Regions from separate parts of the Homo sapiens genome. Here all the other regions are reported to be linked to region 4. Evidence: microRNA targets listed by miRTarBase, many of them from high-throughput screens and not tested one by one. Region 4 holds a microRNA gene; each other region holds the end of a gene's coding sequence.

Region 1 (4,190 bases), not on the chromosome of region 4:
TAAACACTTTGACTTTGCTGACTATGATCTAGCATGGTAGAGACTTTGATATAATACTGTTTATAAATGAATTTATTGAGGGGCAAGATGAAAAAAATCTCATAGCTATATCAGTATGCTATACGGGTCAGCTATATCAGTATGCTGATCAGCTTAGGTTTTAACATTTTTACAATAAATTATTGGTTTATTCTTTAAAAGAGACTGAATGGTGAACCTCTGGATAATTTTGAATCACTGGATAATCAGGAATTTGATTCTGAAGAAGAAACTGTTGAGGATTCTCTAGTGGAAGACTCAGAAATTGGCACGTGTGCTGAAGGAACTGTATCTTCCTCTACGGATGCAAAGCCATGTATATGAAATGCATTAATATTTGACTGTTGAGAATTTTACTGCCGAAGTTTACCTCCACTAGTTCTTTGTAGCAGAGTACATAACTACATAATGCCAACTCTGGAATCAAATTTCCTTGTTTGAATCCTGGGACCCTATTGCATTAAAGTACAAATACTATGTATTTTTAATCTATGATGGTTTATGTGAATAGGATTTTCTCAGTTGTCAGCCATGACTTATGTTTATTACTAAATAAACTTCAAACTCCTGTTGAACATTGTGTATAACTTAGAATAATGAAATATAAGGAGTATGTGTAGAAAATTTGTCTGTTTCTATGCTTTTATGTTGTTCTCTTTCCATTCTTTTGCTAACTACCTTGGAGGAGACAAGGAGAAAACGAACTTAAAGTATTTAGACTGAGATAGCTGAGGTTTTTAACTCCCAAACTTTGTTGTACCTCAAGCTCATTGTAGACACTATTGATATTAACAAGTTGTTTTTGGAATGGAGCATGAGAATCTATTTTCCAAAAGCTTTTCAAGTGAATCTGATTAGACAGTGAGAGGCCCAACTGGCTAGCAGGATCAGACTCTTCTTGGAAGCTTAAAATGATGGATGATGGTGATAATCCTCAAGAAACAAAGTGAGGAGTGGGTAGAAGTTTGACGGAAAAAATCAGGAATAGCTGAAAATTATGGAGCTTTTCTATTTCACATATTGGTATAGTGCAAAGTATGTAAATATTGAAGAATAAGAGTAGGGTCAGATTCATTAGGGATTTCCCATATATACTAAGTTTTGAAGGAGGAAAAGTACAAACTAGGGGTATGTAGCATTGGAACTGAAAAAGTTCTGTGAGAGGCATACAAGTAGTTTTGTATAAATTGGCAATAAAGAGCAATGTCATGCTTTTATTTTTTTTCCTTTGAGACGGAGTCTTGCTCTTGTTGCCCAGGCTGGAGTGCAATGGCATGATCTTGGCTCACTGCAACCTCTGCCTCCCTGGTTCAAGTGATTCTGCCTCAGCCTCCTGAGTAGCTGCGATTACAGGTGCCTGCCACCACACCTGGCTAGTTTTTGTATTTTTAGTAGAGCCGGGGTTTCACCATGTTGGCCAGGCTGGTCTCGAACTCCTGACCCCAAGTGATCCGCCCACCTCAGCCTCCCAAAGTGCTGGGATGACAGGTGTGAGGCACCACGCCTGGCCTCAAGCTTTTGAAAGGATTGTTTTAGGTAAGCATCCTTATAGAACCTTAATTTTCTCTCTCTGTCACCCAGGCGGGAGTGCAGGGGTGCAATCTCAGCTCACTTCAGCCTCCACCTGATGGGCGCAAGTCATCTTCCCACTTCAGCCTCCCAAGTAGCTGAGACTACAGGTGCGTGCCACCACACCTGGCTAATTTTTTATATAGACGGGGTTTCGCCATGTTGCCCAGGCTGGTCTTGAATTCCTGGCATCAAGCGATCCGCCTGCTTCGGCCTCCAGAGTGTTGGGATTACAGGCGTGAGCCACCGTGCCTGGCCTTAATTTTCTTTAATACTGAGATAAAGCCTACCTCATAGTGTTATCGTGAAGATTAAAACCTTTAGTGTCTAGGCTAAGTGTCTTAAAAATGGAAGCTATTATTAATCTATAACAACATTGTCCAGTAGAACTTATTGGGATGATGAGAATATCTGCTGTACAGTATGGTAGCCATTTCTGTGTGGCTGTTTAGCACTTGAAGTGTGGCTAGTGTGAATGAGGTATGGACATTTTAATTTAAGTCACTACAAGAAGCTAGTGGCAATTACGTTAGTGTGGCTCTGTGTGTTTCAGGTGTGGATCACTAGCCTAAAGATAGGATTAATAGGTAAATTAATTTTAAAGGAATTGAAGAATATTCTGGATTAGAGCATGAGGAGACTCAGTTGAGAGGCCTTTAGCATGGTTAAGAAAGAAAATAGGTAAGTAGAATAGGGACTTGACAAATAGAAAGTATTTTTGTAAAATGCCAGAATTTGATGGTGGGGAGCAAAAGGAGAGGGAATTGAAGGGGATTAAAAAACTAAGGTAGTAGCTAAAACCATAAAACTTCTAGATTATATAGAAAAGTTCTTAGTGACTTTGGGTTTGGCAGAGAGTTCTCAAATAGGACACAAAAAAGCATCAACTTCAAATTAAACGTTGTAAATTTTAAAAACTTTTTGAAAGACAAGCAAATGAAAAGGCAAGAACAGACTGGGGGAACATATTTGCAGAACATAGCCAACAAAGGATTTGTATCTATAAAGAACTAGGGTATGTATGAGATGGAAACTAAGTGCATGAAAAGATGCTCAACATTAGTCATTAAGGAAGTGCAAATTAAATGACAACCAGATACTGCTACATACCTTTCAGAATTGTTTTAAGTTTGAAAAATAAAAACAACTCCATCGAGTGTTAAGGATGTGAAACATCTGAAACCCTCCTGCAGTGGTGGTGGCAGTGCTAAATGCTACAACTGCTGTGGAAAAGTTGAACAATTCCTTAAAAGTTATACATACACATTTTATATGACTCAGCCATTCCACCCCTGGGTATTTACCCAAGAGAAACGAAAGCATATGTCCACATGAAGACTAGTTCACACATTTTCATAGCTTTATTTGTAATAGCCCAAATATCCATTGGTAACTGAGTGGATAAATTATGGTATAACTATACAGTGGAATACTATTTAGCAATAAAAAGGGGACAAAAATTGGTACACGCCACATGGACGAATCTCAATGTTGTGTGAAAGAAGCCAGGTAAATACATACTGTATGCTTCTATTTATTTAAAATCACAAAACTACAAAGTATAATGAGAAAGCAGATTAGTAGTTGCCTAAGGGTCATGTAGGGGCTGTTTTGGGGGACATATTTTAAGCTTCTAGTCCCTGGGAACTGACCCTAGTGATGGAGAATTTGTAGGAATTTCCTGTGGAAGATGAGTCTGATTTTTAATTAGGTATCAAATGTTAGTATAGCATGTCAGCCGGGTGTGATGGCTACGCCTGTAATCCCTACACTTTGGGAGGCTGAGGCAGGCAGATCACTTGAGGACAGGAGTTCAACATCAGCCTGGCTAACATGGCAAAATGCTTTGTCTACTAAAAATACAAAAGATTAGTTGGGCGTGGTGGTGCACACCTGTAGTCACAGCTCTTCGGGAGGCTGAGGCACACAAGAATTGCTTGAATCTGGGAGGCAGAAGTTGCAGTGAGCATAGATTGCGCCACTGCACTCCAGCCTCGGCAACAGAGTGAGGCTCTGTCTCAACAAAACAAAAAACATGTCAATGAAAATACCTTGGAGAAGGGGTCAGGGAGTCAATCAAGCCTGGCCCATTAGAACAAGTTCTTTGAAGTTGGTTTAATAAAATGCAGTCGAGCTTCGTTAAGGAAATGGCAAATGGATAAGAATCAGTTGGAAAAACAGTATGCATGAAGCCTGGATTAGACTGAACTAATTTGTCAATATATTTTACAAGGCTAGCATAACTGATATCAAGATTTGAGGATGGACCAGCCAGGTGTGGTGGCTTATGCCTGTAATCCCAGCACTTTGGGAGGCCCAGGTGGGCAGATCACCTGAGGTCAGGAATTCAGGACCAGCCTGACAAACATGGTGAAAACCTGTCTACTAAAAATACAAAATTAGCCAGGCGTGATGGTGCATGCCTGTAGTCCCAGCTATTTGGGAAGCTGAGGCAGGAGAATTGCTTGAACCCAGGAGGTAGAGGATGCAGTGAGCCAAGGTCGCGTCTTTGCACTCCAGCCTGGGCAACGAGCGAAACCTCATCTCAAAAAAAAAAAAAAAAAAAAAAAAAAGAAGGTAAT
Region 2 (4,223 bases), not on the chromosome of region 4:
CTGAGAAGGTATGGAACAGCTATTTACAAAAAAGTGGAGAGATTGAACGAAGAAGACAAGAATCAGCCTCCAGATATGCAGAACAAATTTCAGTGCTTAAAACAGCGCTCTTGCAAAAGGAAAATATCCAATCCAGTTTGAAGCGGAAGTTGCAGGCAATGAGGGACATTGCTATATTAAAGGAAAAGCAGGAGAAAGAAATACAGACATTACAGGAGGAGACAAAGAAAGTCCAAGCTGAGACAGCTTCAAAGACACGGGAAGTACAGGCCCAGCTCCTCCAGGAGAAAAGATTACTGGAGAAACAACTGAGCGAGCCAGACAGGAGGCTACTGGGAAAGAGAAAAAGAAGAGAGCTTAATATGAAGGCCCAGGCCTTGAAGTTGGCAGCAAAGCGGTTTATTTTTGAATACTCCTGTGGCATCAACAGAGAGAACCAGCAGTTCAAGAAGGAATTACTGCAGCTAATTGAGCAAGCCCAGAAACTAACGGCTACTCAAAGCCACTTAGAAAACAGGAAGCAGCAGCTGCAGCAGGAACAGTGGTATCTGGAGTCCTTAATCCAGGCGAGGCAGAGACTGCAAGGAAGTCATAATCAGTGCCTAAATAGACAGGATGTTCCAAAGACCACACCCAGTCTTCCCCAAGGCACCAAATCAAGGATTAATCCAAAGTAACTTCTAAAATAACACTGATTAAATAAGAACTGGAGCAAGTACTCTTAAGTGCTACATTAACCTGGTTAGAAAGGCTGTTGGATTCCAGATTGCTATTGTAAAATCTCCATCATGATGTGTTGGAGTGAAGGATTAGATGGTTTTATCCAACAGTCCTACTAGATATTTGGTAACCAGCTTCCCTTAACTAGCTTTTTCTTTAAATACTCGTTAATAAGCTATTCCACAAACCTCCAGTTAACCTAACACATGACCCTAACCTAGCCATTTACCATACATCAAACTAGCTAAAGGAAACCAACCTAAGGAAGTGAAAACAGTTGTGATTTATTTCATCTAGCTAAATTGTATTTCTTTATAGAGAAAGTACCTTTAAGGATAGCATTCCAAATAGACTTTGAATAGCGTTCTGCCAGTTTATCCTCATTCCTTTTGACCAACTTAGCAGACAAAAGCAGTTTTTACAAGCTCTTTGTGAGTTTGTGCCAGTGACCAGGTAGCTCCTTCTAGTTTTCTCATGAGTGAAAAAGCATTCTGATAACAGCAAGTCCAGTAAGTGCTAGGCAGAGTGACCTTTCATCTGATGCTAAGCCCCTACAAGTTTGAGAAGGTAAGAAAAGATGAAGGAGACATATATTAGGTCAGCTCTTACTTTTGAAAATGTTTTATTTGAAGAAACACCTGTAGCATTGAGGTGACTGAATGCCTCCACTTATTTCAGGAAAACGTATCCAAAAAAAGTTGAAATATTTGGACAACTTTTTTTTTAAGTGCCATCGATTTCCCTAGCAGCATTCTAAAAGATAGCAAGTAAAATGATGTTTGTTATCCTAAATGCTTTAGTTTTAGGTCATTTATTAATTTTCTTACAGGTGCACTTTCTAGTACATGAAGTATCCTTTGTAATTAATGTGTGCCATATGTTTATTCCCATTTAGTATAACTATAAATTATATTTTAAATTATATATTTTTAGGATAGTTATATTTTTTTTGGGTTCTACGACATTGAAGTTGGACTAGTGATTTATTTGAATGCTGAATCCTAGTATAGGGGAATATAATCTTATATTTTAACAGGGGTCCTCTATGGGAAAATAGGATGAACTTTGTTTCCCAGAAATTGTTAAGTGATGAAAAACTTCAAAATAATTTTCCTGCATTTTCTGCTTTATTTACATGTAAAGTGAATTCCCTGAAAATTGGATTTAAAAAGCATTCTCCTTCAATGTGCCTTTACCTTGTAGCTTTAACAACTTTTCTGTTAAATATGTAGTTTTTTATTAAACAATGTTATTAAATAAAAACATTTATCCACTGATTTTATTACTGTTCCAATGTAACACATTTTCTACTTCATCACTCTTCTGTTACCACTCTTAAATGTCTTATTCACATGTGCAAATAATAAAAACTAGTTTTAATGCAGAAATTAGGATTTTAGCATACAGGTACTTTAACCTAAATCTCAATTTGTGAGCTGAAAATACAGAAACACTGAACAAGGAAAGCATGGTATCCAAGACAAACTTGAAGGCTTAGTCTCTGTGGACGTAAAAACCCTAAGACAATGTATTTCTAAGGCTGATAAAAAGTTGGAAAGTAGGAAGCATATTAGTTCTGTTAATTCCCCTCCTGCCACTGGTGTCCCAATTATCTAATTCAAGAGTGGGTAACTTCCACCTGATCTCAGTTCATTTTTACTTATCATCCCAGGTAATGGATATGGTATACTGCTTGTGGCTGTCCCTTCCAGAGTGAGGGCTTGAAGACATTAAAAGTTGAATGATAACTGATTTCATACCTTGAAATCCATACCTCTAAGTAAGCAGCAAGTTGGCCAACTAAGATTTCAATCTGCATTTTGTCTGCTTTGCTATTTAGAAAATTACACAGGGTTATGTTACAGAAAGTGAGTTTAGATGGAAAAGACCTCTGAGGTGAAATTTAAGACCTATGATTGCTAAAATGAAGCCTACAATGCAAAAACTGGGGAAGAAACTATTCTAGGCAGAGGCAACAGTGAATGCAAATGCCTTAAGATGGCAATAAGCTTGGTAGGTTCAAGGAACAGAAAGGTGTGTATGTAAAGTATAGTTGAGGAATGGTCACAGAACATGAGTGGAGGAAAGGAAGATGAGGCTATTAAGGCTAGCAGGAGTTTAGGCACCGAGGGCCTTTAGCAGGTGAATGAGGTCTGATTTACCTAATTTTAAAAACTACAACTGTTATGTGGAGTGTATCCAAGCCAGAAAAAAGTGGAAGGAAACCAATTACGAAGATACTGTAGTCTAGGCAAGAGGTAATGATGGCTTAGATTGGAATGGCAGAAGTAGAGTGAACAGATTCAAAATGTAGTTGGTGGTAGGCAGGACTTGCTAATGGATTTGCTATAAGAAGAGAGAGATGAAGCAAGAGTAAATTTCTAAAATGTTCTCTTTTAAGGAGATGTGCAGAATATTCTTTGTATTTTTTTAGACGGTCTCACTGTGTCACGCAGGCTGGAGTGCAGTAGTGTGATCACAGCTCATAGCAGCATCTTGACCTCCTGGACCCAAGAAGTCCTCCCATCTCGGCCTCCCAACTAGCTGGGACTATAGGTGCACACCACAATGCCCAGCTAATTTTTTTAATTTTTTTGTAGAGATGAGATTTCATCACATTGCCCAGGTTGGTCTAGAACTCCTGAGCTCAAGCGATCCTCCAGCCTCAGCCTCCCAAAACGTTAGGATTACAGGTGTGAGCCACTGTGCCTGGCCCCAGACATTGAGACATATTCATGATGATACGAGAAACCCTACTCAATTTTATAGCTTGTATAGTATTCTACTGTATGACTATATCACAATTTATCCATTCTGATAATGGATAATTATTGTGTATTAGAGTAGGCTAACAAAGAGACCCAAGAATGTATAATGTCTCAAATAACAGACATTTATTTCTTGCTCACTTAATAGTCTCAGATACATGTTCCTGGTTGGCAAGTGGCTCTCCTTCAACAGGTGATTCAGGGGGTCAAGATATCTTCCATTTTGTGTTCTTCCATCTCCTAGGGCCCCATCATCATCTGCATTTAGCCAGAAGAAGGGTAAAGAAAGCTTGGAGGTACACCCACTCAAAAGTTCTAACCTGCAAGTGGCATTCATCACTCCACTCACATTCCATGGGAGAGGAGTTAGCTGGCTTCTCCTTCACTAGAGAGAGTGGAGGGAAGGGGGATAACTAGGAAATATACAGTCTAGCCATTTGTTCTATAATCCCATAATTTGCAAAGGTGAAAGTAGATCTCTGATACTTGTTTTCAGTATTTCTCTACTGTAAACTGTACTGCAATAATCATTCTTTTTTGTGTCTCTTGGTACGCCTAGACAAAAGGAGTTACTCTGTGTATACCCAGGAGAGAAACTGCTAAGTCTTCGGGTACATATCTTCAACTCTGCTAGATACTGCCAAATCACTTTTGAAGTGATTGTACCAATTTGCATTCCAAACCATGTATGAAAGTTCATAATACTGTCAAACTTAGTTTGTTAGTCTAATGAAT
Region 3 (4,000 bases), not on the chromosome of region 4:
TCACCATGTTGGCCAGGCTGGTCTCGAATTCCTGACCTCAAGTGATTTACCCACCTCAGCCTCTCAAAGTGCTGGGATTACAGGCATGAGCTACCGTGTTGGGCCCCTTCCCAACTTTGGATTCAGAGCTACGTCCTACCAGAGCCAGAAGGGGCCACGCTCTTCACTGTACAGATGGGCACACCAACGCCTGGAGATGTTGGATGCAGAAGGCGAAATGTCAGAAGCTGGAGTCCTGCATCTCAGCTGGAAGGTGAGGTAAGATTCCTGCTGGTGTTTATCCCTCTCCTCACTTCCCTCAGCAGCAGCCCCTTTCTCCTCCCCTCCTGCATCCCTGGAGCAAGTGCCTTAAGGCCTTCCTGCTTCAACATGCCCCCCACCCTACAGCCTTTCCTGCATTTCCCTGTCCTCTGGGGAGTCCCTGCAGATAGAAATTCAACTGCACAGCCACGAGGAACATCTCCTTGATGTTAACTAGACTGTGTTTCTTTACAAATATCTGGTGGCAGATCTCTTCATTCATTCATTCATTCATTCATTCATGCACCCATTTAATCTTCATTCATTCATTCCATCTTTCATTATTCACTCATTGGGTTTGAGCAACTAAACCAGCCACGAGGGATGAAATTCTCCGTCACTGTGAAACTGCTCATTCACCCAACTAGCCAGCTCACTGTTTCTGTCATTCATTATACACCTCATAAGTCCTGCATAGGTCTGAGATGTGGGCTTCATGTATGTCTGGCAGGCATCCAGGCTTTCCCATCATGTGTCTGTCCCCTGGGTCACATCCATGTCAGGTGGGTACCACAGTCTAAAGTCCTTGTATTCTCTTCCACATACCAGGGCTGATAATTTATCAGTTGCCATTGATCAAAGTTCACAAGGCAAATCTTCATAAACTTCTAAAGCTGCCTACAGTTTCCCGTAAACAAATCTCTAAATTTACAAAAGCAATGCTTGCTGATTGTAAAAAACACACAGTGCCAAAGCATACAAAGGAAGAAGACCCGCTTGCAATTTGCTACCTACATCCCACTCTTGGGGCCAACAACTATTGGAAGTGTGGTGAGTGATTGACTTACATCCTTCTAGATCTTATCTACATATTTGCAAAGAAAAAATATACATATATAAAATAAAATATGTGTGGGTTATATCCTTACAAACTGAGATCATAGGCAGTTCCGCAACTTGCCTTTTCTCTGTAACAATAAGTGATGGATGCTTTGCAGGGTTGGTGCTACAGATCCTATTTATTCTTTTAAAAGGCTGCATAGGGAGCTCTGGTGGCACAATGAATTAGTGCATGATACTTATTGAGCTCTTTTGTATGAGCACTTCTGAAGGCTCATTTCTAGAAGTGGAATTGCCAGGTCACGTGCATTTTACATTTTAATGGATACCCAGTGCCAGGCATAGTGTTTCCTACATAGCAGGAGCTTCGTAAAGATCTGTGGCGTGATTACATGGTGCCAGATGGCCCTCTAGAAAGGTGACACCATTCCCACTCCCACCAAGGATGACCAGAAGAGCCACAGAGGTTTCCATTTCTGTCACCAGGTCACAGCAACACTAGGTTTCAGGATGGCCACTTTCCCTAGGGCCACTCTGCTACTCCCTAGGAGGAGTTAAAGGCCCTGTGATGAAAGGAAGGCAACGTCTGGGCCGAGGGTAACTTCTCCTCCAGGTCTCCCAAGCCCATTTCTCAACATCCTCCTGCTATCACGGTGAGGGCAACATCAGCTGCAGGACTTCTCTAATTGGAACTAGCCACATCTACACAAAGAACCCACATGTTTTCTGCCACCCCTGACCAATCCCTGAAAGTAAAGGGAAACTTCCACTTACGCTTGGGCTCATTCTCCTATGGCCAACCCTGGCACTATATTGTCAGTAACTGCTGCACTCCTTCCAGGGCCCTATCTCACTGGGAACCCACACCCGGACAGTCCCTGTTCCTGGCATCTTTGGGGCTGCCTGTGCCATCAAGCTGCCCCCAGCTCTGCCACCTGCCTGCGTCCTGATGCCCCCAGGATGAGCATTATTGGGAGAGCACTAAAAGAGGCACCCCTGTTGGCATACCAGGGCCAGTTCTACCTCCAATCCTCCTGAGAGCTTTGGCCAGCATTGACATGGGGCTCTCTGCCTGGAGAAGGAGGCTGGCATTGAGTGGGCTGTGGGGGCGCAGTGCAGAGGCAAAAATCAGGGTGGAGGCACTCAGCCCTGTCTGAGTCCCAAGGCATTGGCATTGTCCCGCCCCATTCTGCATGACTATGCCAGGCCCCCATGGGTCGAACCCCAGTGAAGACTCTTCTCCCCTAGGGGGTTAACTCCCACGAGCGAGCGGGGCTGGTAGAGAAGGGTGGAACCTGCCACCTCCTCACCTTCCTGTAGGAGATTCCAGGGTGGGGCCGTTCAAGGTCTCCTAAAGCCCCACTCCACGGATGCCCAGCCCCACCCACTGCTCTCCTGGGCTTTTCCCCACCCCCATTGTCTCCCAGCAGGTGGTTTCCTGCTATCAACAGCAGAATGGGCTGTCCCAGGGCTGCTTCCTGGATCCAACCCCCTCACAGCCAACTTACCAACTTCTCATGGTAAGACAGCCAGAGAGCTGGGCTCCATGTGTCCCAGGAAAGCCTTGGGCGGAAGGGATTGGGAAACCCACACAAGGGACACGCGTACCCCATTTCCAGGCTGTTTGGCACACAGAGACATCAAAAAACAGACAGCCAATACATCTAGAACAAGCCTCTCTCCGAGGGCGGCCCATGGATGGACTGTCCTCCCAGACCTCCCAGGTGGCTCATCAGTGGTGGGATTGCGGCGCAGCGACCCCATCACCGCACCCCTCAGCAGTGCCTGGGCTCACCTCTCCACCCACCTCCCCACACAGCCAGAGGCAGGCCCTCAGCCGCAATCAGTAACATTCAGTGAGGACATGTGTTTATCATGTGTTGTGGGTGGGTGCAGTGAGTTCTCTATTCAGGTAGGAGTGGAAGCTGGCTCAGGGCTCATCCAGTCCAATGTCCCACAGGTATAGAAGTGCCCTGATAAAATCTCAGAGCTGGCTGTCCAGTCAAGATTTGCATACCTCCAGAAATGGGGCTCTTACTACCCCTCACAGTAGCCCATTCTACTGTTGGGCACCTCCAATGGTCAGCATTTTCTTTCCGGCAGCCTCTTTCTTGGGCTGGGGGGTGGGCGGAAACTGTCACTCCAGCCTAACCCTCAGGACAAGAGAGGCAGCTGGGGTGGAAACAGAAGCAGAAAAAGTAATAAGTTAAATCCAAGAATGAACAGAGACACGGCAGGATGGGCAGGGACATTCCTGGGGTGCCAGCAGTCTCTAGCTTGATCCAGGAGGCACTGGGGAGGAGGTTGCTGATGGCAAGATTCCAGGCAGGAGGTGACTCAGAAGGCCGGGTTGTCAATGCCCCTCTGATCCCCGGTATATTCTTCAGGCCTGAAGCTGTAGGGAGGGGGTGGCTCTGTGGGAGTTGGGCCCAGGCTGGGCTTCAGAATCACCTGCAGGGAAAAGAGAGAATTCAGTCTTCTGGGCCCTGGCCCTGGCCACCACTCCCCCATCCCAGCTGAGGCATGGTTACCAGGGAGAGGGGTGACCCAATGCTGGGTGCAGAGTGCCCTCCAGGATCGAAGGGCCCTCCACTGTCTCTGCTGCACAGCCGGCCAGAGGCAAGGTGGGGATGGGGATGAGACACCCACCTCACTGTAGGGGGGTGGGGGCGCAGAAAGGGATACTCTGACCCTCTCTGGGGGGATGATGGAGGGCAGTTCCAGGGGCCCCCGGCAATCCACTGGGCTGTCTGGCTCCGGCTCTCTGCAGTTGCGACAGAAGCACTTAGCCAGGCCACAGATGCAAAAGACGGACAGGATGACCAGGAAGATGATGACGAAGATCCTGGGGTGGGGACCACCAAGAGTACCCTGAGTCCCCAGGCCACCCTGGGGACTCCCTACATCTCCCCGCTCCCGC
Region 4 (4,223 bases):
TTAACTGTTAGCATGATTTCTGTGCCCTCTCATGGGCATTTTCTGTCATATATTTTTGTTATCTGTAAAGACTACACTATCTTTTTTTTGTACATATTATGATTTTCTGTAAAACAGGATAGTTAAGATCAAATATTGTATTCTGGATAATAACCACTTCCTCTGAGGAATTATATTTTTTTTGTTTCTTTGTTTTGTTTTTGAGATGGAGTCTCGCTCTATCACCCAGGTTGGAGTGCAGTGGCGTGATCGCGGCTCACTGCGACCTCTGCCTCCTGGGTTCAAGCGATTCTCCTGCCTCAGCCTCCTGAGTACCTGGGACTACAGGCGCCCGCCACCGCGCCCAGCTAATTTTTGTATTTTTAGTAGAGACGGGGTTTCACCATGTTGGCCAGGATGGTCTCAATCTCCTGACCTGGTGATCTACCCACCTCAGCCTCCCAAAGTGCTGGGCTTTACAGACGTGAGCCACCGCACCTGGCTTTTACTGTTGTTGTTGTTGTCTGTTTTTAATTTGTTTATTGAATTGGCTGGAGTTTATTTACTTATCTGCTGTGAATTTTCTTATACTGTTCTTTAGAGAGCACAGCCTTTGTATGCACATAGTAACTCTAAGATGACAGTGATTTTAGTAGCATTCTTTTTGTTTCTTTTCCTGATCTCTCTGTCCAGCTAGTGGTCTCTGTGTATCACACAGAGATGTTAGGTTTTCTCACTGAATGCTGACTTTCTCTATCGTTTTTTTTGAATTTTAAGGGAAAAACGTATCAGAGTTTGATCAAAATAATTTAAGCCACTTGGAACACGTTGTTTTAAAGGCAAGTCTTTCAGGTTTGTTCTGATACAGGAAGGCTCTTATTAGCTGTCAGTTTATCGGATACTCTGGTAAATAAGCTGGCCTGTGGTTTAGCTTGTTGCTCTCATACAGCTACCAAATCCATCTTACTTACTTACCTCCAAAATCTGTGTTGTTACCTGGAGCATCGTTAAGCCTGAGCTTTCCCTGACTCTGCTATAAATAAAGTCCTATTTTTTTTTTTAGGAGAGCTATAATACCATCTTTTATTCAAACTCACTTCTCACACTGGGAAAAAGAATCTCTGACTCACTGCTCTCAAGCTTTGGGAAGGTGCAGCGACCTGCTTCTTTCACAACACTCCTGCTTTATGTACAGAGTGAAGATTGGTAGTCGTAGATTTTGGTCTTCTCAGCCTGCTCATTCCAGGGTTGAAACTCTGTTTTATGATTATTCTGGGGTGATGATGATCAGAGACCCCATATTCTCAACCTGCCAAAACCACACTAAAGCCTACACCCTACGAAAGTGAGCTGAGTGTACGAACAGTGCCCCTAACATCTGTACCTGTTGCTTAGCCACAGCAACACAAAATTAAGGGTAGGGTGCATGAGAAAGGCTGGGAACTTGTTTCTTCCATTAAGATACCATAATTTTTGACTGGTAGCAACTTCACATTTTAGGCTACTTACAATCACCTCTTTCTTCCATCCCAGTTCTCTGACATCCATTTACCATATTTGTGTTACTATATTTTGGTGTCCCAGATTTAGTTCATCCAGGAAAATGAAGACACATAGTTGCATGTTTCCAAATGGAGAAAAATGCAAACAAAAATGCTTGAAAAGACCACGCTCGAGGGAAAGACTCAGAAATCTCACAAACTGGAAGAAGTTTAATGGCATCCATAGATGCCAAGAACATTTTCTGTTTTGCAGTTCATTCCTGGTAAGTAAAATATTTTTATTTTTGCTCTAGGATTTAAGGAGAAACAGACATTTCTACTCTCCATCACATCAGTGATTACCATCCTATCCTAGAATCTTGTGTGTTTTCCCTGCTTATTCTGTGGTTCAGGAGTTGAGGGATGTAACTCAGGTAGAGGGACTCATCTTCAGGTGACGAGCATAGATGACATAGAGTATATTTTCCTGTTAACTATTAGACCTGAGGAATGTAAACTGCTTTCTAACACTTTATAATAATGGAAAAAATAAACAGGATAAGACATGCAAGGATTTTTCTTCCGTGCACAAGAGAGTCTAGCAGAAAAGCTTAATGGTTCATAGTTCTGAAAATTGCCATGTCATAACTCCAAACCATGATTGGACAACACAGGAAAGGATGGATGAAGAAAGACAGTGTAGTGCATGCTACAGAGGCCCTTTGTATGAACACCAGTCACCAATCAGATTGAAAACAATGATGTGTTTTTGAAAGATGCATGTTGGTCAAAGAGTACAAACTTTGAGTTACGTAATAGATAAGCTCTGGCTATCTAATGTATAGCATAGTGATAATAATGCTGTAATTGTTTACTGGAAATTTGATAAGAGAGCAGATTTTAAGTGTCCTCACCACACCCCCACAACACACACACAAATGGTAACTAAGAGCGGTGAATGATGTGTTAGTTAATTTTACTATGGTAATCAGTACGCGATGTATATACATATCAAATCACATTGCACACCTTGAATATATACAAATTTTGTTTGTCAATTACATATTTTTAAAATATAAAAAGAAAGGTGCATGAGTCAGTCATTAGGCTGGGCTGCCATCCTTAAGTGTTCTATTCTTCATGTGGTACTCTTCTCAAGAGGGAGGCAATCATGTGTAATTAGATATGATTGACACCTCTGTGAGTGGAGTAACACATGATATATACATCATATGACATGGCATGGTGGATACACGGGGCGTGTTAAGTTGCAAGCAGTATAATACTTTCCCTAGAATGCAGACATTTCTACTGACACCCTCCCTGTTCTGGACTAGCTCAGTTAATTCTCTAAATTAATTATCAGACGTAAGACCTAGAAACTGAAAGTCTGAGGAAAAACTTCCCATTGAGTTTCTTCTGAGATTCAGATCCCTTTTGCCAAAGTTGCTTGACCAAAATGGTAACAAGCCTTTCACTGTCTTCATGGTGTTCCTGTCACCTATAAAGTGTTTTTTCTTTTGTAAGAACCTATTCCCAACCGTAGCCTGCAAATCTCTTAACTTACCACCTATCGACATTCCTCTTCATTTTTAAGATTTTCCCCTTAGGCATCCATCAGTTCCCTCCCTTCTCAGATCCTTACCCTACTAAAGACCAAAGTATTTTTTTTCTCCCAGGTATTAAAGCTCCTTTTTTTTTTTTTTTTGGTAATTATTTCTGGTCTTTTCTGGTCTTTTTTTTAACTTTTATTTTAAATTCAGTTGTACATATGCAGGATGTGCAGGTTTGTTATATAGGTAAACATGTGTCATGCAGGTTTGTTGTACAGATTATTTTATCACCCAGGTATTAAGCCTAGTATCCATTAGTTATTTTTCCCGATCCTACCCTTCCTCCCACCTTCCACCCTTTGATAGGTCCCAGTGTGTGTTGTTCCCCTCTATGTGTCCATGTGTTCTCATCATTTAGCTCCCACTTACTTATGCATGAGAACATGCCATATTTGGTTTTCTGGTCCTGTGCTAGTTTACTGAAGGTAATGGTCTCCAGTTCCATCTATTTCCCTGTAAAGGACATGATCTCATTCTTTTTTTATGGCTGCATAGTATTTCATGGTGCATATGTACCACATTTTCTTTATCCAGTCTACCATTTATGGGCATTTAGGTGAATTCCATGTCTTTGCCATTGTGACTAGTGCTGCAGTGAACATACTCGTGCATGTATCTTTATAATAGAACAGTTGATAATCCTTTGGGTATATACCCAGTAATGGGATTGCTGGGTCAAATGCTATTTCTGGTTCTAGGTCTTTGAGGAATTGCCACACTGTCTTCCACAATGGTTGAACTAATTTACACTCCCACCAGCAGTGTAGAAGCGTTCATGTAGTTTTTGTTTTTATTCTGTTTATGTGATGAATTCTAAGCTCTTAATGCACAGGAATTCAGTGAATCTTTACAAGAACCTTATGAAGTAGGAGCTGTTATATCCACTCTCATTTTACTAATAAGACAAGAAAAATAATTTTAATAAATGCCTTATGATCACACAGCTATCAAGAAGCAGAGCTTGTATTTGAGCCCAGGCAGCCACTCTACAGTGTCCCCTTTTTTACATCAACTCACTGCCCTCCCTTAGTTTCTTTTCTTCTAAATCCAGCACTAGAATGTATTAAACATTTGATTCAGCTCACAGCTCACAGTTCCTTATGTAGAGCTTTGATAATGGCCCTGCTCACAAAACAAAGAGGCTCTGACA

Evidence for each region. Region 4 holds the annotated microRNA hsa-miR-514b-5p (UUCUCAAGAGGGAGGCAAUCAU, at 2,612-2,633, shown strand). A microRNA usually pairs through its seed, bases 2 to 8, with sites in the 3' UTR of a target mRNA and lowers its output. Matches are read on the target gene's strand: a 7mer-m8 pairs with bases 2 to 8, a 7mer-A1 pairs with bases 2 to 7 and ends in A, and an 8mer does both.
Region 1: the mRNA of GMNN is a reported target of hsa-miR-514b-5p. Seed matches in the 3' UTR shown: 7mer-A1 at 384-390.
Region 2: miRTarBase lists CCDC121 as a target of hsa-miR-514b-5p. Seed matches in the 3' UTR shown: 7mer-A1 at 1,280-1,286.
Region 3: miRTarBase lists TMEM92 as a target of hsa-miR-514b-5p. Seed matches in the 3' UTR shown: 7mer-A1 at 1,709-1,715.

Annotation. Positions count from the first base shown.
Region 1 is chr6:24,785,437-24,789,626 of GRCh38, forward strand. GMNN (geminin DNA replication inhibitor) reads left to right here. Exons shown (of 7, transcript NM_015895.5): 7 at 202-663. The coding sequence ends at 363. Among named protein-coding and RNA genes, the nearest start is that of ARMH2, 11 kb to the right of the region's middle.
Region 2 is chr2:27,623,417-27,627,639 of GRCh38, reverse strand. It overlaps CCDC121 (coiled-coil domain containing 121), which reads left to right. Exons shown (of 2, transcript NM_024584.5): 2 at 1-2,002. The coding sequence ends at 677. Among named protein-coding and RNA genes, the nearest start is that of CCDC121, 3.5 kb to the left of the region's middle.
Region 3 is chr17:50,278,726-50,282,725 of GRCh38, reverse strand. TMEM92 (transmembrane protein 92) reads right to left here. Exons shown (of 5, transcript NM_153229.3): 4 at 3,730-3,925; 5 at 1,241-3,531. The coding sequence ends at 3,418. It overlaps TMEM92-AS1 (TMEM92 antisense RNA 1), which reads left to right. Exons shown (of 4, transcript NR_125805.1): 3 at 175-258; 4 at 850-1,147. Among named protein-coding and RNA genes, the nearest start is that of TMEM92, 6.3 kb to the right of the region's middle.
Region 4 is chrX:147,248,607-147,252,829 of GRCh38, reverse strand. MIR514B (microRNA 514b) reads left to right here and starts at 2,600; the gene lies at 2,600-2,679. All of the region lies in intron 2 of LOC105373347 (periphilin-1), which reads right to left.